Homo sapiens: one gene and its partners. The protein of the gene in region 3 purifies or fractionates together with the protein of the main gene of each other region. This does not show direct contact. Each region holds a gene or a part of one and is shown on either strand. Other genes may lie near its edges.

Region 1 (4,445 bases), on a different chromosome or scaffold from region 3:
CCAGCCCCTCACAGTCACTGCATTGCATCTGGATGAGCCACTTTTCTTCCTGATTTCCTGAGCTCTAGGGGAGCATAGAGATAATGGGGTCAGGGGACACAGTGTGGCCACCGTGAAGGAAGCAGCTTAGGCCCCAGAAGTCTCCAGGATTGCTGTACCGAGATGACCAGGGTGTGATCTCTCACCCTAAGGAGCTGAATTTGGCTTTTCTGTGGGAAAGTGTCTGGGAAGAATATCAGAGACCAATAGCGCTCAGGGGGCCCTTTCTCGGGGCTGTCCAGTGTGGAAACACCCTGTCCTACACCAGTGGTTCCTGATTCCGGCTCTGAATCAGATTCACGAGGGCAACTTTTTTTTTTTTTTTGATATGGAGTCTTGCTGTCGCCCAGGCTAGAATGCAGTGGCGCGATCTTGACTCACTACAACCTCCGTCTCCTGGATTCAAGAGATTCTCCTGCCTCAGCCTCCAAGTAGCTGGGATTACAGGCAGGCACCACCATGCCTGGCTAATTTTTTTGTATTTTTTAGTAGAGACGGGATTTCGCCATATTGGCCAGGCTGGTCTCGAACTCCTGACCTTATGATCCGCCCGCCTTGGGCTCCCAATGTGCTTTGGTTACTGGCGTGAGCCACTGCACCCGGCCTGGGGCAGCTTTTTATAAGCACAGATGCCCAGGCCTTATTATTGAAGATTCCAATTCAGTAGATCTGGGTTGAGGACCAAGCATCTGCATGTTTTAAGAAGCCACAGGTTATTTTTGAGGTGTAGCAAGGATTGAAAGAACAGAAAACTTGGATTTGGAAAACTAGTTGTGACTTTAGGCAGTGAGTCAGTTTCCTAATGCACACATTGGGGGATTCTATAGGAATGCTGTAAGAAGCAAATAATACATGGAGAGAGTGCTTTATACAGCGATACACTGCACAGACACACTTGCCTTCAACATCAGCTGCCAGCCTAGTAAGTGGTAGTATAAATGCAAAGGATATAACTTCCTTTAGTTTTGCCAGGTGGGTCCCTGTGATTCTAGCTGAGCCCCAGGAAGGAAGGGAAGAAAACTGAGGGAAGAGAAGGGAGTGTGTAGTTGCCTCTGGGAAGGATAAAAGGATATGCCCTCTGGACCAATAGTTTATAACATTTTCCCCATTAAGCATCCTTCTACTCATTTTTCCTCAATGGATTAGTATCTTTAAATTTCATTACATTTCCCTAGTCTTCATGGAATTGCCAGCCAGAGAAGTCAGCTCGGGGTCCCCCTAAAAAGGAGGACTGGCCGGGAGTGGTGGCTCGTTCCTGTAATCCCAGCACTCTGGGAAGCTGAGGTGGGTGAATCACCTGAGGTCAGGAGTTCGAGACCCGCCTGGCCAACATGGTGAACCCCATCTCTACTAAAAATACAAAAATTAGCCAGGCGTGGTGTTGGGCACCTATAATCCCAGCTACTCCGGAGGCTGTGGCAGGAGAATCGCTTGAATCTGGGAGGCAGAGGTTGCAATAAGCTGAGATCATGCCATTGCACTCCAGCCTAGGCAACAAGAGCAAAACTCCGTCTCAAAAAACAAAAAAAAGGGAGTGTATGCCTGCATATGTATCAAATGCTGTAGGAAGGATATTCAAGAAATTTAGGGCCCTGGGAGGTGGGGAGACTTACAAAAGTGGACGTGACAGTGTTATTTGAAGTTTTAATCATGAGATGACTGTTCAGTTCTTTAAAATATCACACCTGATTGGTTGTGAATGGCAGAGGCCACCAGAGTATTTGCAGATTGGGAGCTCTACGTGGGTGGACATCGGGTCTTGCTTACTGTGAGCCCCAGGACCTAGAACACCACTTGCATACTGGAGGTGCTCAGATCATTTTTTTTTTTTTTTTTTTGCAGACAGGGTCAGATGTGTTACTGGGCTGGAGTGTGGTGGCACAATCACGCTCACTGCATCCTTGACCTCCTGGGCTCAAGTGATCTTCCCACCTCAGCCTCCCAAGTAGCTGGGACTACAGGTACGCCTCACACTTAGCTAATTTATGTATTTTTTGTAGAGGGTTTCTCCATTTGCTCAGAGTGGTCTCGAACTCATGGGCTGAAGTGATCTGTCCACCACAGCCTCCCGAAATTCTGAGACTGAAGGCATGAGCCAGTGTGCCAGGCCTAGAATATTTGTTGAGTGAATGCATGGAAGCCCAACTAGATAGCATTTTGGAAAACAGTAACAAGTTAGAAGATTAATACCATACAGTCACTAGAAGGTTAATTATGAACAAGTAGAAACAGAATATTTTTAATAAATGAAATAGACAAATGGAATTGTACTATGATTGCAATAATTAAAACTTTCACATATTGCTTGTATAGGAATAAAGACAAAGTCATATAAAAAAATGGGGAAAATTAAACACTACTCACCCATAGTCCTGAGTATTTTAAAGAGCCTTCGTAGAGCATTCAAAATCGGGTAAGAAAAATGGGGAAAAATAAAATTACTTAATCTTTAAAAGGAAGACAAGCGTATGCTCACCTAATTGGACTTATATAATCAGGCTTGCTCTAGCTTATCCAGAATCAGAGTACAGGCCGGGCGCAGTGGCTCATGCCTGTAATCCCAGCACTTTGGGAGGCCGAGGTGGGTGGATCACCTGAGGTCAGGAGTTTGAGACCAGCCTGGGCAACATGGTGAAACCCTGTCTCTACTAAAAAAAAATAGAAACATTAGCTGGGCTTGGTGGCGGGCGCCTGTAATCCCAGCTACTCGGGAGGCTGAGGCAGGAGAATCGCTTGAACCCAGGAGGTGGAGGTTGCAGTGAGCTGAGATTGTGCCACTGCACTCCAGCCTGGGCAACAAGAGTGAAATTCTGTCTCAAAAAATAAATACATAAATAAATAAGAATCAGAGAGTACAGTCAAGATATTCTTAAGTCATGCAGTTGTCGCTAACATGAATTTTTTCTGTTGTCATTTTGCTTCTTGGAAGGATTTTCAAAATGGCTGCAGCTCCTCAAGCACCGGGGCGGGGATCTCTCCGTAAGACGAGACCTCTGGTTGTGAAGACGTCGTTGAACAACCCATACATCATCCGCTGGAGCGCTCTGGAGAGCGAGGATATGCACTTCATCCTACAGACGCTTGAGGACAGGCTTAAAGCTATTGGACTTCAGAAGATTGAAGATAAGAAGAAAAAGAACAAAACACCTTTTCTGAAAAAAGAAAGCAGAGAGAAATGCAGCATTGCTGTTGATATTAGTGAGAATCTGAAGGAGAAGAAAACAGATGCTAAGCAGCAAGTGTCAGGGTGGACGCCTGCACACGTCAGGAAGCAGCTTGCCATTGGCGTTAACGAAGTTACCAGAGCCCTGGAAAGGAGGGAACTGCTGTTAGTTCTGGTGTGTAAATCAGTCAAGCCTGCCATGATCACCTCACACTTGATTCAGTTAAGCCTAAGCAGAAGTGTCCCTGCCTGTCAGGTCCCCCGGCTCAGTGAGAGAATCGCCCCCGTCATTGGCTTAAAATGTGTTCTAGCCTTGGCGTTCAAAAAGAACACCACTGACTTTGTGGACGAAGTAAGAGCCATCATCCCCAGAGTCCCCAGTTTAAGTGTACCATGGCTTCAAGACAGAATTGAAGATTCTGGGGAAAATTTAGAGACTGAACCTCTGGAAAGCCAAGACAGAGAGCTTTTGGACACTTCATTTGAAGATCTGTCAAAACCTAAGAGAAAGCTTGCTGACGGTCGGCAGGCTTCTGTAACATTACAACCCCTTAAAATAAAGAAACTGATTCCAAACCCTAATAAGATAAGGAAACCACCCAAAAGTAAAAAAGCTACTCCAAAGTAATCTTGCATAAACTTGTCATGTCATACAGTTTGTGAAAGGACACCTTGTAAAGAAGCCTTGAAACTAATAAAATGAGTTATACTTACATAGATTCATAGGGTCCTGTTTGGTAATATTCAAATGTGTAAGACTCTTTGTAACTATGGCACAGATATACTAAGTGCAGGAAATATTCAAAATTAGGAATAGCCAAACAGACATTTATTGAAACTAGTGTTCATGCGTGTGTAAATTGACTTTTTCTTTTTCTTTTTTTTTTTTTTGAGACAGTTTCACTCTTGTTGTCCAGGCTGGAGTGCAATGGTGCGGTCTCAGCTCACTGCAACCTCCTCCTCACGGGTTCAAGCAATTCTCCTGCCTCAGCTTCCCAAGTATCTGGGACTACAGGTGCGCACCACCATGCCTAGCTAAGTTTTGTATTTTTAGTAGACACGGGGTTTTACCATGTTGGCCAGGATGGTTTCCGTCTCTTGACCTCGTGATTTGCCCACGTCAGCCTCCCAAAGTGCTAGGATTACAGCTGCGAGCCACCGTGCCTGGCCTTTTTTTTTTTTTTTTTGAGACAGAGTTTCGTTCTGTCGCCAAGGCAGGAGTGCAGCGGCGCAATCTCGGCTC
Region 2 (4,491 bases), about 55 Mb from region 3:
AAAGAACATAGCAAGCTGACTTTGTCTCATCTTGAAGATCAGTCAAGGAACAATTTAAATGAAGGCTCAAAGGATGAGAGACATCAGCCATATGAAGAGGTGTAGGCAGAACATTCTAGGCAGGGGGAGCTGTAAGTAGGCAACTAAAGTGCCAGCACCATTAAATAAAATACTGCTTATGTGGAGGAGAAAAGCTCAAAACTCATTTGTTGTCAAAAGTTGACAAGCATTCAAGAATAATGGTGAGAATAGCCTGCTAATAGCATTATTCCATATGCAGGTTGATGCCGCCTTACCTTTGGACATCCTAACCTATGAAGAGAAGACCTTGTCAGCCATCTTGAGAATATGTAGCAGGTATGACAGAGAGTGGGAAATTTCTAGTATAACAGGGCAGAGAGACCGATGGAGCAAAAATGCTCTCTTCTGAGAATGAGAATAAATTTTTTGTTGTGAACTCTGAGCAGCTTTTGGGAATTTAAACTGGGATGAATATGAACATTCATCCACCAGAAACTTGTACTCTAGAGAGGGCAAAACTTACGATTTGGTTACAGCTGTAGTTTTCCCATTGATGGTTATAGTTGCAAAGTCAGAAGTGAATATTTTAGAAACCTTAGTTGAAGTTCATTTTGTTCTCTGTCTATGACACACTATGTATTTTCTTGATCTTTCTGCAGTGGTCTTGTCAAATTGTGGAGCTCTTTGACCCTGTTAGGATCCTATAAAGGCAAAAAATGTGCTTTCCGGGTGATTCAGGTAAAGACTATTCCCTCACATATTCCAAACAAGACTGAGTGATGGGTCAACTGCTTCTTAATATACACAACTCATTTTTGTGCTTGCATAAATGTAATATGGTTAAAATGATCTAAGTAGGGGAAAATAAAGGACTTGATTGTTTCCAAAAATGTGAGACAGAGCACTTAGATTTTAAAATCTATGGGAGATGTTTTGGGATAAAACTTGCAACCCTGTGGTTAAGGCTTACTTTTTTTATTTAACACTTAATGCCTTGTGTGTTATATATTGGTACGCTCTTTTTGAGATGTGACCACTTGTTATCGAAGGCTTCCTCTCAGGATGCTCTGTAAAATGCTCCTGCATCAGCTTTGTTTATCCTGTAAAACTGGGCATGTTTCCCCATTGCCCTGTGCTTCAGTGTGGTTTCTCCCAATGCCTTAACCTTTTTCTTTCTCTTCTAGGTTTCTCCATTTCTTCTTGCATTATCTGGTAATAGTAGGGAACTAGTATTGGATTGAATGAATAGTCTTCCATTTTGGAAACGTTCATCCACTCTCATATTTATTTTTTGGTGCCTGCATGTTTGAAGACTGAAGCAGGCTAAAAGCTCTTGATGAAATTTGAGGGTGCTGAAGATGTTCCCACTAATTTCCAGCCATCACCTTTGGTGGGGTGGGCTTCGGAGGACAGTCTGTCTGAACCTGCCAGTGCTGACCCTGCAGCACTTTCAGCATATGCACATCAAAGTTGGAGACCGCGCTGAACTTAGGAGGGCCTTCACACAGACTGATGTGGCTACCTTCTCAGAATTAACAGGGGATGTCAATCCTTTGCATTTGAATGAAGACTTTGCAAAACACACCAAGTTTGGAAATACAATTGTACATGGAGTTTTGATCAACGGACTTATCTCAGCTCTCCTAGGAACTAAAATGCCAGGGCCAGGCTGTGTATTTCTTTCCCAGGAAATTAGCTTTCCAGCCCCTTTATATATTGGAGAAGTTGTTTTAGCTTCTGCAGAAGTGAAAAAGCTGAAGCGGTTCATTGCTATTATTGCAGTGTCATGTTCTGTAATAGAAAGTAAAAAGACTGTTATGGAAGGCTGGGTTAAAGTTATGGTTCCAGAAGCTTCCAAATCCTGAAATAGATGTTTTAAAGATGCAACCTCAAACACCAATGCTGTTGTTAAAGAGCCTATGGGGAATTGCTGCTCTTTACCAAAGAATGGTTGATAGGCCCAGAAGCCCATCTTAGTTAGGGGAAGGGAGCAGGAAGAGGGTTGTTCAAATGCCCACTTTCCAGTTTGGCCTTATGCTTCATGCAGACTTGAGTGTATGCAGGATTTCATTATCTGCCTGGGTTTTTTGTTTGTTTTTTGTTTTTTAATTCAAGAAGTAGGCTGGGCCCGGTGGCTCATGCCTGTAATCCTGGCACTTTGGGAGGCTGCGGCAGGCGGATCACTTGAGGTCAGGAGTCCAAGACCAGCCTGGCCAACATGGTGAAACCCCATCTCTACCAAAAAAAAAAAAAAAAAAAAAGTGCAACTAGCTGTGCTTGGTGACTTGGCCCTGTAGTCCCAGTTGCTTGGGAGGCTGAGGTGGGAGAATTGCTTGGGCCTGAGAGCTGGAGGTTATGGTGAGAAACTGAGATTGCACCACTGCACTGTAGCCTGAGTGACAGAGCGAGACCCTGTCTCAAGAAAGAAGTATTGGGAAGGTTATTTAAAGACTCTACTTTTAAATCAGGCGTGGCAGCTCACGCCTGTAATCCCAGCATTTTGGGAGGCTGAGGCAGGCGAATCACTTGAGGTCAGGAGTTCAAGACCAGCCTGGCCAACATGTGAAACCCCATCTCTACTAAAAATACAAAAACTAACCGGGCATGGTGGCGGGCACCTGTAATCCCAGCTACTTGGGAGGCTGAGGCAGGAGAATCTCTTGAACCTGGGAGGTTGCAGTGAGCTGAAATCACACCACTGCACTTCAGCCTGGGTGACAGAGCAAAACTCCACCTCAAAAAAAAAAAAAAGATTCTACTTTTAGAAATTCAGACCTAGATAGATTTGCATTTGGATAACAAATCCCTACCTATAGCCATGTGGAAGCAGCTTGTCACTGTATTTTAACTGTGTAACAATTATTGAAGGCGAAAATAGAAGTTGGGTCATCTTTGAACACCTACCTTTTATCAATGAATATTTTTAGACTGTTCTTCAGTATCTGAGTCAGAGTTTATTGTAATTTGTTATTTACACCAAGGTGGCATCTTAGTCTACCTTCAGTGAGACTTGCGTTTCAGGGGAGGGGCGTATGTGCATCCTCGGTCTCAGTTATGTAAACGGTCTGATCTGTAAAATAGTGGTAGCACATGCCATGTGGGATAGTTGGTGGAGATGATAGATGGAGTTAAGCACAGGGCCCAGCCTGTCAGCAGTAGCTACTATTATTGTTGCCCATTTCCCCTGCAACTGAGGTGAGAGGTTTTCCTGAGTTTGAAGCTGACTGGCCCACAGTTAAACGTAACAGACCAGTTTTTCAGGGTGTCAGCCAACCTCTATTAGTGTTCTTAAGTACAGTTTCTGTTATAAAAGTTCAGATTATTCCTTGAAAATTTGGATCTACCTCCCATTATTATGAGTAATACATGCTTATAGTAAAAAAAAAAAAATTGTAAGAAATAAATATTAAGAAGATTATGGAGGCCAAATTCTTAAGACTTTGGGGGCTGGGGTCAGGGAGGTTATATTGAAGGGGAGATGTGCCTAACATGTTACTACTAAATGGCCATCCCAACACAGCCAACACTTTTGTTTCCCATTTTTTTTTGTTTCCCGTTTTTTAATAAAATTGAGATATAATTCACATACCATAAAATTCACCTTTTAAAAGTGTACAGTTTAGTGGTTTTCAGAATATCCACAAAGTTGTACAACCATCACCAAATCAATTTTTTATAGCATTTTTCATCACCCCCAAAAGAACCTCCCATTAGCAGTCAATCCATTTCTCTCCTCCAGTCTTTGGGAATCACCAGTCTACTTTCTGTCTCTATGGGTTTCCCTGTTCTGGACATTTCATAAAAGTTCATACAATGTATGATCCTTTGGAACTGGCTTCTTTGATATAGCATGTTTTCAGGGTTCATCCATGTTACAGCATGTATCAGTACATCATTTTATTTTATGGCTGAATAATATTCCATTGTATTTACCCATACATCAGTTGATATTTGGATTATTTTCGCTTTTGGGCTGTTAAAAATAATGTTATGAACATTATAGAAGAGGTTTTTATGTGCACAGGTTTTAAATATATATATATATATATATTTTCTTTTTTTCTTTTTTGAGATGGAGTCTTGCTCTGTCGCCCAGGCTGGAGTGCAGTGGTGCGATCCCAGCTCACTGCAAGCTCCTCCTCCTGGGTTCAGGCCATTCTCCTGCCTCAGCCTCCCAAGTAGCTGGGACTACAGGCGCCTGCAACCACGCCCGGCTAATTTTTTGTATTTTTAATAGAGACGGGGTTTCACCGTGTTAACCGGGATGGTCTCGATCTCCTGACCTCGTGATCTGCCTGCCTCGGCCTCCCAAAGTGCTGGGATTACAGGCGTTAGCCATTGCGCCTGGCCGACAGGTTTTAAATTCTAGGAGTGGAATTGCTGGATCATGTAACTTTAATATTATAAAGAATTGTCAAATTGTTGTTCAAATTACTATTGGGCATGAGGTGGTATCTCATTGTAGTTATG
Region 3 (7,042 bases):
TAAGGCCAGGATTTACAGTGTGTGTGTGTGTGTGTGTTCTTTTAATAGATAAAAGTAGAAATCTTAGAGGGCATTCCAGGAACTGGTTATCAGAAGTCAACATGGTAGATTAGCATCCAAGATGGAAGTTACTTTAGCCTCATACTGTGCCTGTGAATTTCTTTGAGGAGGGGATGGGGTGGCCCCACACCTCTTCCAGGTTGTACATACCCAAGTGCTAGGCAGTTCCTGTAGCTGGTGAGAAGCCCAGGGGCAGGAAGTGAGACATCCCCAGAGCAAGAGGCAAGGTTCAGCCCTGCTTGAAACTGGTTGCCACAGCAGTGACTTTAGTATGAAGGCCAAGAGGATTGGAAGTGACACACAGGAGGTCTCAAACACTGCTCTTATAAATGGCCTGTGTGTCCTAATGCCATCAGAAGTGATAAAGTTGGTACTAGGATGTGGGTAATCCCAGCACTTTGGGAGACCAAAGTGGGTGGATCCCTTGAGTCCAGGAGTTTGAGACCAGCCTAAGCAACATGGTGAAACCCTATCTCTACACAAAGTTTTTAAAAAATTAGCCAGGGCATGGTGGTGCCTATAGTGTCAGCTACTCAGGCGGCTGAGGTGGGAGAATAGCTTGAGCCCAGGAGGTGGAGGGTGCAGTGAACTGAGATCATACCACTGTGCTCCAGCCTGGGCAACAGCACAAGACTCTGTCTCAAAAAATAATAATAATAATAATTCACTACGATGACCCTGACAATAGTTTCTAATCTCATTTACTAGGTAAGTTACAGTTTGGTATACTTTAGATTGCATTTTTTTAAATGTTAAATATTTGGATTTATTTGGAAAAAGTAACTGATACAGAATACTGAATTCCTTATAAACATACAAATTGTCATTTTGTGGACACATGTGAAGCTTTTTTGCCATTTTCCCAGAATAGTAAAGGGCAGAAGATGGGAAAATGAGAGGAGATGAAGATACTCCAAAAGAACATGAATGAATTTGGAAACAAATGCTAGACTGGCAGCCCAGTCCATGCTATATTGTCCTTAACTCACTGAACCACCCTGGTTTTTCCAATGAAAGATAAGCTCCAAAGTTTATTTCAGCTATAAAAGTTTCATTCTTGAAAAAATTCCACTTCAAATCCAGAAACCTAAGCCTGAGGAAACTGACTAGCTCAGTGAAGCCACAAGTAGGAGAAGCAAGACTGAACCTTAAATCTCCTAATTCCCAGGGAGTTTTTTTCTGAATCAGCTAAATGAAGTATTAAAAGAGGCTACTTAGGGGACTGGGTGCATGAATATAGACAACTCTCAGCAAATAAGCCCTATGGTCCACAAAGCTATACACCAGTTCTCTTACTAATTTACCTTCTATTTCCCAATAGGTAAAGGATATTCATTGAACACAAGGACACTTAGAAGTTAATGGCCATTTCTAGACTTGTCTAGAATGAAATCTCCTTGGTATTGTCTGTATTTTAAGGCACTAAATGGATACTACCACTTGGTAGAAAGCCAAAAGGAATATGAAAACTGACTACAGATTAAGAATTAAACCAGTTTACTTAAGGCTTCAGGAGAGAAGCTAAAGTAGTGTTTATATAACTGGATTTGGGGGCCACCTGGATCAAAATCACTTGGGCTCCATGTTAAAAATGCAGGTTTCTGGCCCCTGTTTATCAGTCTCTGGGAAAGGGCTAATCTGCATCTTTTAGCAACCCACCAGGTGATTCTCAAAAAGTCTAAAGTTTGAGAACCACTGGTAGAGATAACTGAGAAAATGGAGAAGGCAGACAGGGAAAGAACAAAGCCAAATAAAGAATGGAAGGGAAATAACTTCTGTTATGATAGGGTGGCTGAGGAAAAGAAGGATGCGGTACATACTAAGGTACTACTTTCTTTTTCTTTAAATCTCTATGTAACAAAAGTTAAGGGCACTAGAGAAGCTTAATAACCTAATTCTAGTAAAGTTAGAACATTGGAAAGATACCTACCTCAAACTTCACATCATTATTTGAAAATACTCAAGATGTACTCCCCTCAGAGCAACAGTACGAGCAACATCCCCTATCAGATGACAGCATCAACACCAAATTATAAATGTTCTAGCCTCATTCCTGGGTCTACTTTGTATCTCCTAACCTCATTTTTTCATTTTACTTTCTCATCTACCTGTTATCCTATTATATTTCATATGTAACCATAAACCACCTTATTGCCTTTTTGTAAAAAGGTTTATTTGGAATCAATCACTGGTACCCAAATAAATAAAATTAAAACGTTTTGGAGAACTCCAAACTCACTTTAATATGAGATAAGCCAAGCAAATGAAGAGAAATAATGGTTGTAACCAGTCCCTGGTAATACAAGCAGTGGCAAACCTTGTTGATCAATTCCAACATATAAACAAGAAAACATAAATGTCAGGAGCTACAAACTTTAGTATTCAGAGGCGGACCTATGTATAATGGAGCCAATAAGACCAAATTGACCTTTCAGGTGTTTCCTTGCTATCTCCCACCCCCGCTCCTCATTTACCTCAAGACACAATGGTTTTTGCAAACGATTATTAAATTGCCTAGTAAGTCATAAAATTATTCAGTTTTTCAGAGACTTACTAGCCTCACTCAAGGAATTACATCTGCTTCTCAAGGGTAGGCTGTGGCAGATTTTTCATATTAACACCTGACATGTAGTTGAAGCCAAAAAAGAAATACTTGTTGATGAAATGACACAATGCTACTTTAAATGTAGACTGAACTGAAATGAACTCCTGTGCAATGCTGCACTAAAGCAGCTCCTCTGTGAGTCCAGGTGGTACTTCCAGATCTTAGCAGTTCTACTTAGAACACTGAACTAGCCTTGTTAATCACTTAAAAGTCTCACATATGAACGAACATCTAAACTCCCATTAAAGCAAAAATATCATCAATGTCATCTGTCTCCTTAATGGTTCCTGATGTACTGTTTTTATTTATTTGCATCACCGTCCACGAATCAGTTTCATTTTCATGGATGCCTCTAAGATTTTCATGAATCATTTTCTCCTTAGTTTGTATGACAGGCATTGAAACTCCACTATTCAAGAGCTGCTTACTGTTAGGGTAGAGATCAGTTCTATGCACAGTACAGTGTGAGAGTCTCCACTTAGCACTGGTATCTGTAGCACTCTTCCGAGTCCCTTGAGAGAACTGCTGAATTTCCCTTAAAAGAGTCGACTGCAACTTTCTCTGTGGTTTCCTTTGTCTCCGTAAAAATTTATTCTGTGATCTTCTCTGTCTCAGATGATGCTTTGAAGTTTTGATACCTGAGCCACGAAGAAGGTGGTTGCAAATAGACGTTTTTATGCACTCTAGTTTCTTTGGCAAACTTTAAAAGACAGAGAGAGGAAAAATCTGGGCTTAAGATGAGAAAAACATTCTCAAGCACTTTTAATTTACCAACTGAAAAGAAAAATACACAACTTATCTACAAGTCCTATGCCTGTGTACAATCCCAGAACCACATCGAAAAATTTCACCCCAAGTCTGTTTTTTGAGAGCACAAATGCCCTCTGATTGAAGTGTAGACGAATGTGTCCCCATTTTGCTTTCAAACTCTCAAAAGTACAGCCGCCTAGCAATTAGCTGAATGGCGAGATACCCTATACTTTAGTGTCAGAGCTTTTCCCTCATAACTGCTAATCTGTTCATAATGTAATGAGTGGACATGAGGAAACATCACAAATGAAAAAATCTGCCAGTACGTATTAATCCGAATCTGGATAATCAGCTTCATGCTGTGGCAGGAAATGAACAAGGAAAAAGGAATAAAGGCTAAGAGGGGTTTATAAAACAATATGAAGACAGGGCTTCTGGCCCAGATACACAGACAGCCTTAAGCTACCCTAATTATGATTCATATGTCATCTTCAAGTTTGGAAATTCAGAAATCAAACAGCTGATCATTTTAGGTGTTTTGCTTCCACACACGGTACACTGCCACAAGGTTCATCAGTGCCTTGCTGAATTGTTTCACTGTTTGTGATAGATTTTAAAAGACGGGCATGGATATAAAACTTTGAGGAAGCCCATTATAATAAAGTAAATCATGATCTTTGCTTCCATACCATTTTCTTATCTCACTATAAGCAGTGGCTTTTAAGTGGGGAGAAGGTGGGTGTACTTCAGAGTTGAAAGGAAAACAGAGGGCCTGAACTGAGTTCCACATCTAACCCCTTGAGCAAAATCCTCCATTTACCCATCTATGAAATGGGAATAATACTGTCTACCTCACAATGTTATTATGGACATTAAATAAATTATAAAGTTTACTACAAATATATTAATGAAACAGCAAAACAGGGCAATCTATGAAGGAGCACTATATCTGGGGGAGTACTGAGTAATGGTTTAACCAATAAACACCAGTTTGCTACCCTTCTCATTAACTTTTAGTTGTTACCTCTGCCTCATCTACCCTTGATTTTAAACCCAATTTTAAACAGAATGCTTCTCTCCATCTCAGGCTGCGTCTCCAGCCATAGGATACATCACTTTTAGATTATTACAGACCTTTAGAGGAGCCATCTCAATGTAAAAACCCCTCAAGCACTTTATCCCTCAGGAATATTCAACCACTTTCCCCATAGCTTTTAATCAAAATGTGTTACAAAACCCTCACTGTATACTTTTTTTTTTCTAAAACAGGAATATATTTTATGCAAATTTTAAAAGAAAATTTAACAAATTTTCAATACGTGGTTCATCCCCAGGAATGAACTTTAAATCCCTGAATAGCTCTAAACTATGGATAAGAAATTATGGGGCATGCACAGGATATTTGTTAAAGAATACAATAAAAAACAGGTCAGAATAATTGCCTCTGTGAAGGTGGAATAGGCTCTTAATACATATTTGTGTCTGAAATCATTACCGTTAAGCCCTGAAGTGTCTAATGTCTAAATTCATGTAATACTTCATGCAATACTGGTTCACAAGCAAAGATAAGCACCCTTAAACAGTTGTGAATATAAAAATCACAGAAAAGAAATATAGATAGAGTCCAGCTGCTACAAACAGTAGCAAGTAGCAACAGTACAACACCCCAGCAGTCTTGTGTGGGCCTCATGGAAGGCAGGCACCTTCTGCTTCTGCTCTCATGCCCTTATCCCACTGCACTGCACTGAAGCTGTCTGCAGAAGGGCTGCCTTTCCCAGAAGACCCTGAGCTCCCTGAAGACCAAGTCACGTCTTTATGCAGTTGTATCCTCAGGCTCAGCACACTAGACACTCTTAATGGTTCCTGAATGAGCTGATGGAAATGATGAAGAGCATAACGGGGACTGAAGTCCAATTAACTTGTTTATCTTCTTCCTCCAATGATACAGCTTTGCTCTTACAATAAAAGCAGCAAATGCAATTGCAGTTTGAGTACATCCCAATTTAGCCCCGCTGCGGCTGCTGGACATCACATTTTAAAGAAAAGTGACCTGAATACTTTTACTCATAACAACAACAGAAAAAGTAAAGTAACATAATTTTTGCAATATACCTACCTAGTACCTTGAGCTTCCAGATGTTTAAGCCGGTTGCTTTTAAGAAGTTTGTTACCCAGAAAAATGGCCTGAGCCTTGAGTTTTTTGCTCCTGCACCATACAACTGCCATCTGGATTTCTTCAGAAAGTTGTGTGAAGGACTCAGCCTCTCGGAATCTTTGCACAAAACTTTTGGCATGAGGAGTTCCTATCACTTTCTGAGAAGAATACTTGGTTGTCTTTAGTCTGGATTGAGAACATTTAAAATCAAAACTGGTCTCCTGAAACGTGGAAAGATGAGAAAAATATATTGGACATGTTACTGACTTGTAATTATATGACAACAAGGAAAGCTAGCTCACAATCAAAATTTAAAAATTAGAATTATCAGTCCCTAAATGCTTGAAGTGATGGATACCCCATTTACCCTGTGGTTATTATGCACTATATGCTTATAACAAAATACGTACCCCATAAATATATATACCTGCTACGTACCCACAAAACCTAAAAATTAAAAAAAAAAAATCAGTCTGTAAGGAAATTTTTTTGCTCACTAAGCTTTCCTTATGTCTTTAAAAACTGAATTTTTCTCCACTGCTCCAAATACAAGTTGTTTTGTTCCCCCTCTGTACCAGGACAGGTCCCATCTGCAGCTGAATTAGATTGACATAGGAAAGTTAACATAAATATCCTAACACACATATCTCACATACACAATAAAAAAACCCCACATGATTAAATACTGGTCAAAGCCTAATTGCAGAGGGTTGGGGGATCACTGAAAGGCCCCTCTTCGCTACACCACCAGATTATCACGACTTGTTTTTCACTTATTTCCGTATCCTGGGCAAACCTCCTCAATTTAGAAATGTTTCTGAAAACAGGGAAGATATGGGGCCCTGCAGAGTGCCCAGCAGAATAAGCCCATTAATCAGTTAATGCCTGCTGAATATCTATTAAAAATGCTCAATTGAGCAACACTTCCAATTCTACTTCAACCATCTTCTGACAAGGCACCTTTACTTCTTCAACCCCTTCTTTCTATATCAAGTCACATTTGGATTTTACTAACGTTTACTATTTCTTTATGAAAATATGCTGCCTACGAGATGATCTGCTCTTTCATTCAAAGCTTACCTTCTTCCAAATTTCTTACACTCAAAAGGAACTTTAAAAAAAAGTAGAAAATATAAAAGTAATGACCCAGGTCAATAGTTTATGTTTGGTGATCAATAGAAGTAGTTTGCTTTAAAGCTAAGCAAGTTAGTGCTATTTGCTAAAAATATAGTAGCAGTTAGTTTTGAGTAAGAGGGATGCTGACCCACCAACTTCAAAGCCAGCTCACCTACAAACAGGTGCACAGGCTGCAGAAGTTTCAAGGTTCACAAAGCACCATAGTTCTTGAGATACAGTTGAAAAACTGTTCTGGGGACTGGTGAATAGTAAAGAAGAAAGACTATGAAACCATACTGCCTGCATTCAAATCGCAGCTCTACCATTTATTCACTATGTGGCCTGGCAGTTTCTTG
Region 4 (7,042 bases), on a different chromosome or scaffold from region 3:
ATTCAGACCATAGCAGGGAGCTTAGATTTGAAATTCATGTTGCACCGTTTATAGGAGAAAATTTCACCTGTATCTGTTATATCCAAGGTCCTTTATATGTCATCCTGACATGATTACCTTGTGTGCTACCTACTAGCTTTGTGACCTCGAGCAAGTTAATTCACCTTCCTACGTAAGATTCCTCTTTAAAAATAAGTAGTAATAGCCACCTTACAGGGTGACTATAGGATTAAAAACATGGTCAATGTTGCCACCCAACAAATATTAGTTCTCCACTATAATGTTTATCTCTGATAAAGGTGACATGTTTCTTTTTGAAAATATACTAGAGCCTCATCCTGGAACTTCACGACAGCGGCAAACCAGAGTCAACCCCCATTCTCTGCCTGACCCTGAAGTGAATGAGCAGTCTTCCTCCAAAGGGATGTTTAGAAAAAAGGGAGGATGGAAAGCAGGTCCCGAGGGCACGTCTCAGGAGATCCCCAAGTATATAACTGGTGGGTACTCATAAAGAGGTGCAGTTTGCTTGTATTTTGAACTCTCGTGTCTAGTGCAGCAACAAACTGCCCTCCTTGTGGTCCTGGCTCTGCCTCCCCTACCTCTCCTCTCCTCCTCCTACTTTAGACCCTTCTCGCCTCTAGCCTGGACTTTGGCCAGAGCTTCCTTGGGCTTGATGGCTCTCCCTTCTTCAGTTTCTCTCCCTGTCTCTTACTCTTCTTCTTACAAGTCTTTGTGAACTGTTCCTCTTTGTCTTAGCCCCCGTGCCCCTCTTGTTTTAAATATGCCATCCACACTCAGCACAGCATTCTCCAAGGATGGAAAATTGAGTACACACAAATGGCAACCAAACCTTTATTTAAAGGGCCTGTCTCCAGGCCCTTTCCATCCTCTTCTGTTCTTCACCCTATGATCCCCATCCACACTACCACAATTAAACCCTATATTCCTTGTACCTTGTACCTATACCTTAGATATGCTTTCTGGTCTCTCTTTACGCCTTCTTGGTGGAGGAATTCAGTTAAGTTTCCCCAGCAGCCTGTTTATTCTCCAATGTTAATTCAAGATTGGTGTTTAATGACTTTGTCATCTCCTTCAACAGCTTCTACTTTTGCTCAAGCACGAGCTGCTGAAATCAGTGCTATGTTAAAAGCTGTGACCCAGAAGTCTTCGAATTCACTGGTTTTTCAGACTCTGCCACGGCACATGCGACGAAGAGCCATGAGCCACAACGTCAAACGCCTTCCCAGACGGTTACAGGAGATTGCCCAGAAAGAGGTAGGAGTTCCACTTAGTGTAAATGTTTAGATTAGTAGCTCCTAGAAGAAATTGAGAAGTATTGACCTAATAGAATTTATTAAAAATGAAAACCAAGGCTGGGCATGGTGGCTCACGCCTGTAATCTCAGCACTTTGAGAGGCTGAGGTGGTCAGATTGCTTGAGCCCAGGAGTTCAAGACCAGCCTGGGCAATATGGCCTAACCTTGTCTCTACAAAAAAATCCGCAAATTAGCTGGGCGTGATGGTACATGTGTGCCTGTAGTCCCAGCTACTTGGAAACTGAGATGGGAGGGTACCCTGAGCCAGGGGAGGTTGAGGCTGCAATGAGCTGTGATCATGCTACTGTACTCCAGCCTGGGTGACAGTGAGACCTTGTCTAAAAAGAAAAAAAAAACTCAGAAAACATCACCCTTATGGTTTTTGTTTTTGTTTTGCATATATTTGATTTAATCATTATCCAAACTTCTTCCCTTCAAACGAAATTCACAGGCAATTGGCTATTATGGGTGCTTTGAAATATAGGATTTGATACTCCTCTCTTGTAAGGGTGTTGAATAGTTGATGTTCCCTTCCCAGATGTTAAAAAAAAACTCTGACCCTCTTACCGAGTGGTTTTGGATCTGTGTTTCTAGGGTGTGCCCAGCTTGGGGTAGGAAGGTTAAAAAAAAGCAATGTCAATGCTTAGCATTTGCTTTCTGACTTTTTCGAAGTTGAAAACTTGAACTGGGTTTTAATTTTTGTACAAGTCTAATTGTGTTTTGGCTTCACCAGAATTCTAGACTTGAACATTCTAAGATTAAGCCCATGTCTTTACTAATTGGTTTAAAACCTATTTATTGAGCAGCCTTCTATGTACCATTGCTATGCTGGTGGTGGGGTTTGAGTTCAAGAGGGAAAACTAACAAGGAATTTTATACTTTCTAGATTTAATATAAAATCTGTTTCCCAGTGATAGCATTCAGCATGTGTATGTCTGTAGCTTAACTGAGATGAAATGTATGGGTTTTCCTCACTTGTATTATTTTTGGTCTTAAGTTTTTGGTTTTAGTTACAATTCTACAGGTTAAAATGACAACAAGAAGCTAGCATTTGATTTCTTCTTTCTTGCCCTCTAATACTAATAGCCATATTAAGCTTGTGTTACTGTGTTGAACATTTTATAAGTATTCTGATCTTCATATTCCATGAAACTTGCCTAGTTAGTGAGTGATGGAACTGTGCCTCCTTCCTAGGTCTCCTAGCTCTAAAACATTCACTCTTTCCATTGTCTTCCTTCTCTACTTACATTGAAGAAACTAAGTTAACAATTTAAGCAAACTAATGGGATCTATAAAATATTCCACTTAATCTAAAGTTATTTGTTTGCATTCCTGACCGTTAACTCTGTTTTGAGATTCTTACAAACTGGGATATGTCCCTCTACTTGAAACTATAGGCGGAGAAAGCCGTACATCAGAAAAAAGAACATTCAAAAAATAAATGCCATAAAGCTCGAAGATGTCACATGAACCGGACGCTAGAATTTAACCGTAGACAAAAGAAGAACATTTGGTTAGAAACTCACATCTGGCACGCCAAGCGGTTTCATATGGTCAAGAAGTGGGGCTACTGCCTTGGGGAGAGGCCAACAGTCAAGAGCCACAGAGCCTGCTATCGAGCCATGACGAACCGGTGCCTCCTGCAGGTGAGCTTTTCCAGTGGGCTTTTTTTGTTATTTTTGTTTGATCCTTTTCCATAGAGGCCTTTAGAATAGTTTATGATGTGCCAAGCCCCGTTTATGTGATTATTCATTTTAAAAATAATTCCTGAGCATGAAGCCCGGGTCCTTTGCCAGATGCTGGAGATCAGGCAGCCTAAAGTTAGGGGGGTGACTGACATTAATCAAACGATTTACCAGATATGTGGTTGTAAGGGAAAAGCATACAGTATGATGAGCATTTCTAACCTAACTGGAAGGCGTCCCCCAGAAGTGCTGTTTGAGCTGAGCTCTAAGGGATAAGATGGGAGGAGAGGGGGAAGGCAGAAGGAAGCCAGGTGAGAGTGAAGAACTGGAATCAATTCTGTGTGACAGAGAAGAAGAGAAGGAGAACAAGGCAACATCAGGGCAAGGTTAGCCTAGAGAAAAGAGTAGGAACCAGGTCGTGCAGGTCTTGTTGATCATGTCAAGTTTTATTCACTATAGATTAATCTAACAGTCGTTCATCAATAACAGATATTTGAGAATCAACTGTGTACCCTGAACAGGGTTCAGAATGCTGGTCTAGGTGTTTATGGGTCAGTGGGATGCTGGGAAGGATGTTTTAAATTTTAAACGCTTTGAGAGGACAGATTATGTTAGAGCCTCTTAATAGTATTTATCTGATTGCTCCCTCCTCTCAGAAGCTAATTCAGTTGCTTTCTATTTCTTCCAATACATACTTAGACATTTGTTCTTTGCAGAAGGGCCTATCTTTCAGTGGCAGAATGGCCTTGGCCAAATTTTGAAAGCCATTACTATTGGTGTCCTTTGATACCCCTTGAGAGTAATGTGGTAGAATAAGCAATACAAGAATCTTTTTAAAAAATTGTGGTCAAATATACATAACAAAACCATTTGACCATTTTAAGTGTATAGTTCTGTGGCATTAAGTACGTTTACGTTGTGTAATCAGTACCACCATCCATCTCCAGAACTTTTTTATCCTTCCAAACTGAAACTCTCGACTCATTAAACACTAACTCCCATTCCTTCAGCCCCTGGCAGCCACCATTCTATTGTCTATCCAATAATTTGATCCTATAGGTGCTTCATAGGGGTGAAATCATACAATATTTGTCTTTTTGTGACTGGCTTATTTCATTTAGCATAATGTCTTAAAATTCATCCGTGTTGTAGCATGTGTCAGAATTCCCTTCCCTTTTAAGGCTGAAGATGTATTCCATTGTAGGTATATACCGTATCTTGATTATTCATTTATCTGTCAGTGGACATTTGGCTTACTTCCACCTTTTGGCTATTGTAAATAATGCTGCTGTGAACATGGATATGCAAATATCGTTACAGTCCCTGCTTTCAGTCCTCTTGAATATATCCCCAGAAGTGTAATTGCTGGATCATATGATAATTCTATGTTAATTTTATGTTTAATTTTTTGAGGTACTGCCTTACCATTTTCCATAGCAACTGTATCATTTTACATTCCCACCAGCAATACACAAGGGTTCCAATTTCTCCTCATCCTTTTCAGTACTTGTTACTTTATTTATTTATTTGATCACAGTCATTCTAATGAGTGTGAAGTGAATAAGAGGACCTTTTAGGAGTCTTTGATTTGAGAACTCAGCAGCAGAAATCATAGATAATAGTCAAGTTCCTCATTCACATTGAGGAAGCTGGGTTCTGGAGAGATGAAGTGACTTGCCTGGGCTCACACAGCTTGTTGGTGGCCTACATAGCACTTGGGTGGCTGATTCCCCTGGCTTGTGCTTTTTCCACTGTCCTCTGCCAATGAGTTACTTTTCATTTTGGGCATAATTTTTGCTGAAGTTATCAGATATTTTCTCTAAAATTTGATCAGCCCTAAGTAATAAAACTAATAGCTAATAATAACAAATATTAGTGAGTGCTTAATATATGCCCTACCCTGTTTTAAATGGTTTGCATGTGTTTACTCATTTAATCCTCAGAATAGTACGAAGTAAGGAGTTACCATTATTTCCATTTTACAGATGGGGAAACTGAGGTACAGAGAGGTTAGGTAGTTTACCCATGATTGTATGGCCAATGAGTGTTGAGGTTCAGATTTGAGCCCAGTTGCCTGACTCCAGGGTTCCACACTCTGAACCATTATTCTCTGCTGTCACTTGTTTGGGTGAGGTTCCTCTGGCCACTGACAGCTGAGAGCTGGTCACTGGATGGGAAGATTTCTTTGTGTGAGTGATCATATTGATTGACATGCGTTGTCAGAATCATAGCTATAATTTCCCTTTTAGTTCTAGTTACTGAGTGCACTGAAATTGCTTAAAGATGCTATAGCAGAAGGGTTGGTTTGGCAGATCACTGAGCCTGATTAGAATGCTGGCTTCTCCACTTAATGACTGTGTCTTTGTTCAAGTAACAATCTCTGTGTCACAGTGTCCTTGTCTGTCAGATAAGATAACCATACTAGGTACATCTGGTTGTCAGGAAGACTAAATGACTGTTCATGTAAGGAGTTAACTCATTGCTGGCACTCAGTAACCCTTCAATGACTATTAACTATTATAGGCCAGGCATGGCAGCTCATGCTTAGAATCACAGCATTTTGGGAGGCTGAGGCAGGAGGATTGCTTGAGCCCTGGGGTTCAAGACCAGTCTGGGCAACATAGTGAGACTCTGTCTCTGCAAAAAAAAAAAAAAAAAAAAAAAAATCTGGGTGTGGTGGCTCGTGCCTGTAGTCCCAGCTACCTGGGAGGCTGAGGCAGGAGGATTGCTTGAGCTCTGGGGTTCAAGACCAGTCTGGGCAACATAGTGAGACTCTGTCTCTGCAAAAAAAAAAAAAAAAAAAAAGCTGGGTGTGGTGGCTCGTGCCTGTAGTCCCAGCTACCTGGGAGGCTGAGGCAGGAGGATTGCTTGAGCCCAGGAAGTTGAGACTTCTGTGAGCTGTGATTGCGCCTCTGTACTCTAGCACTGGCAACAGAGTGAGACCCTGTCTCAAAAACAAAACAAACTGTTAGAATTATTATTATAATTATTATTATGGATACTATAACTATTGAAACTTTTAACATTGATTTCATTAGCTTAGTCTGATCTCTCTTCATCTTACTTGAAATTGTATGTTATTACTTTTACTTTCTTTGTACTGTGCTTAAAGTTGCATATCATGGTCAAGACTGAGTATGGGAGAAATATGGGATGGATTAATTGCAATATTGTATCTCTAGGCTTAGTGTTAAGTAATCTTGAGGTCCTGAATTAGCTAACCAAATTGAGCAACCTGAGCATAATTTTGCAGAATTCATTACTGTTTTGCTTATTTTACTCTGGTTTCTTACCTTAGGTAGACTTTGGGGGTGAATGGTTCTCTACTTAGAGGCAACAGTTATGTACCCTCCGTAGAACCTGTCTATGAATATGGGATAAAACATAGATTACCTAAAAAGTAGGATACCGTAACTTACATTTTAAATGGAGATTCATTTTTATTTTGGTTCGGGTTGGTTTAAAAATATTTGTTAAGGTGACAGGAATGGACAGGTTTAGATATTTTTTCCACTAAACCATCGGGCAGGAGAAGGTTTAGATTTTGACTTATGAGAACATAGCTTTAGCAATTTGTTTTGTGTCTTAGGCCTCTAAAGGTTTTGTGATACGGCTTTTGGCTTCTTAGCAGTTTTGCCTGTGTAAATTCCTAAGTACTTAATTGTGTCTCCCGCTTTGTGCAGGATTTATCCTATTACTGTTGTTTGGAGTTGAAAGGCAAAGAGGAAGAAATACTAAAGGCGCTTTCTGGAATGTGTAACATAGACACAGGTAAACTTGTTTTAAAGCTGAGTTCTATTTTAGTCTATGTATATTTATTCATTTCATAAAGAAGTGTCTACTGTAAGCATTTTGGAATTCAAACATATAGAAAAGTGTGTGAGACACTAATCATTCCCAATGAAAATGTTAACTTAAAAACAGTTGGGTTGGCTTTTAAATAATTTCTAACATTGTCAAGTGTAAAGTGATAGAGTCATTTTTCTGGTGGAGTGAACTTGACAGAAAGAAACTTGAAGCTCTCATTACTCATTTAACACAT

What was found.
Region 1: the proteins of RMP64 (region 3) and RPP38 purify together in Homo sapiens (affinity purification with mass spectrometry; 2 studies listed by BioGRID and IntAct, with this or other methods). This does not show direct contact.
Region 2: the proteins of RMP64 (region 3) and RPP14 purify together in Homo sapiens (affinity purification with mass spectrometry; 2 studies listed by BioGRID and IntAct, with this or other methods). This does not show direct contact.
Region 4: the proteins of RMP64 (region 3) and POP1 purify together in Homo sapiens (affinity purification with mass spectrometry; 2 studies listed by BioGRID and IntAct, with this or other methods). This does not show direct contact.

Annotation. Positions count from the first base shown.
Region 1 is NC_000010.11:15,100,337-15,104,781, forward strand, and holds the end of RPP38 (ribonuclease P protein subunit p38), read left to right. Parts: intron 1-1,881; 5' UTR 1,882-2,000; intron 2,001-2,968; 5' UTR 2,969-2,978; coding exon 2,979-3,830; 3' UTR 3,831-3,921; downstream 3,922-4,445. UniProt on the Homo sapiens protein: Component of ribonuclease P, a ribonucleoprotein complex that generates mature tRNA molecules by cleaving their 5'-ends. Also a component of the MRP ribonuclease complex, which cleaves pre-rRNA sequences.
Region 2 is NC_000003.12:58,316,235-58,320,725, forward strand, and holds the end of RPP14 (ribonuclease P protein subunit p14), read left to right. Parts: intron 1-280; coding exon 281-357; intron 358-680; coding exon 681-759; intron 760-1,205; coding exon 1,206-1,262; 3' UTR 1,263-1,379; coding exon of another isoform or gene 1,380-1,886; 3' UTR 1,887-3,959; downstream 3,960-4,491. Other genes in the region: HTD2 (hydroxyacyl-thioester dehydratase type 2, mitochondrial), read left to right, coding at 1,380-1,886. UniProt on the Homo sapiens protein: Component of ribonuclease P, a ribonucleoprotein complex that generates mature tRNA molecules by cleaving their 5'-ends.
Region 3 is NC_000003.12:113,002,640-113,009,681, forward strand, and holds part of RMP64 (nucleolus and neural progenitor protein), read right to left. Parts: intron 5,792-7,042; coding exon 5,532-5,791; intron 3,392-5,531; coding exon of another isoform or gene 3,366-3,391; coding exon 2,897-3,365; 3' UTR 1-2,896. UniProt on the Homo sapiens protein: May play a role in cortex development as part of the Notch signaling pathway. Downstream of Notch may repress the expression of proneural genes and inhibit neuronal differentiation thereby maintaining neural progenitors.
Region 4 is NC_000008.11:98,127,266-98,134,307, forward strand, and holds part of POP1 (ribonucleases P/MRP protein subunit POP1), read left to right. Parts: intron 1-329; coding exon 330-497; intron 498-1,099; coding exon 1,100-1,275; intron 1,276-2,712; coding exon 2,713-2,961; intron 2,962-6,683; coding exon 6,684-6,771; intron 6,772-7,042. UniProt on the Homo sapiens protein: Component of ribonuclease P, a ribonucleoprotein complex that generates mature tRNA molecules by cleaving their 5'-ends. Also a component of the MRP ribonuclease complex, which cleaves pre-rRNA sequences.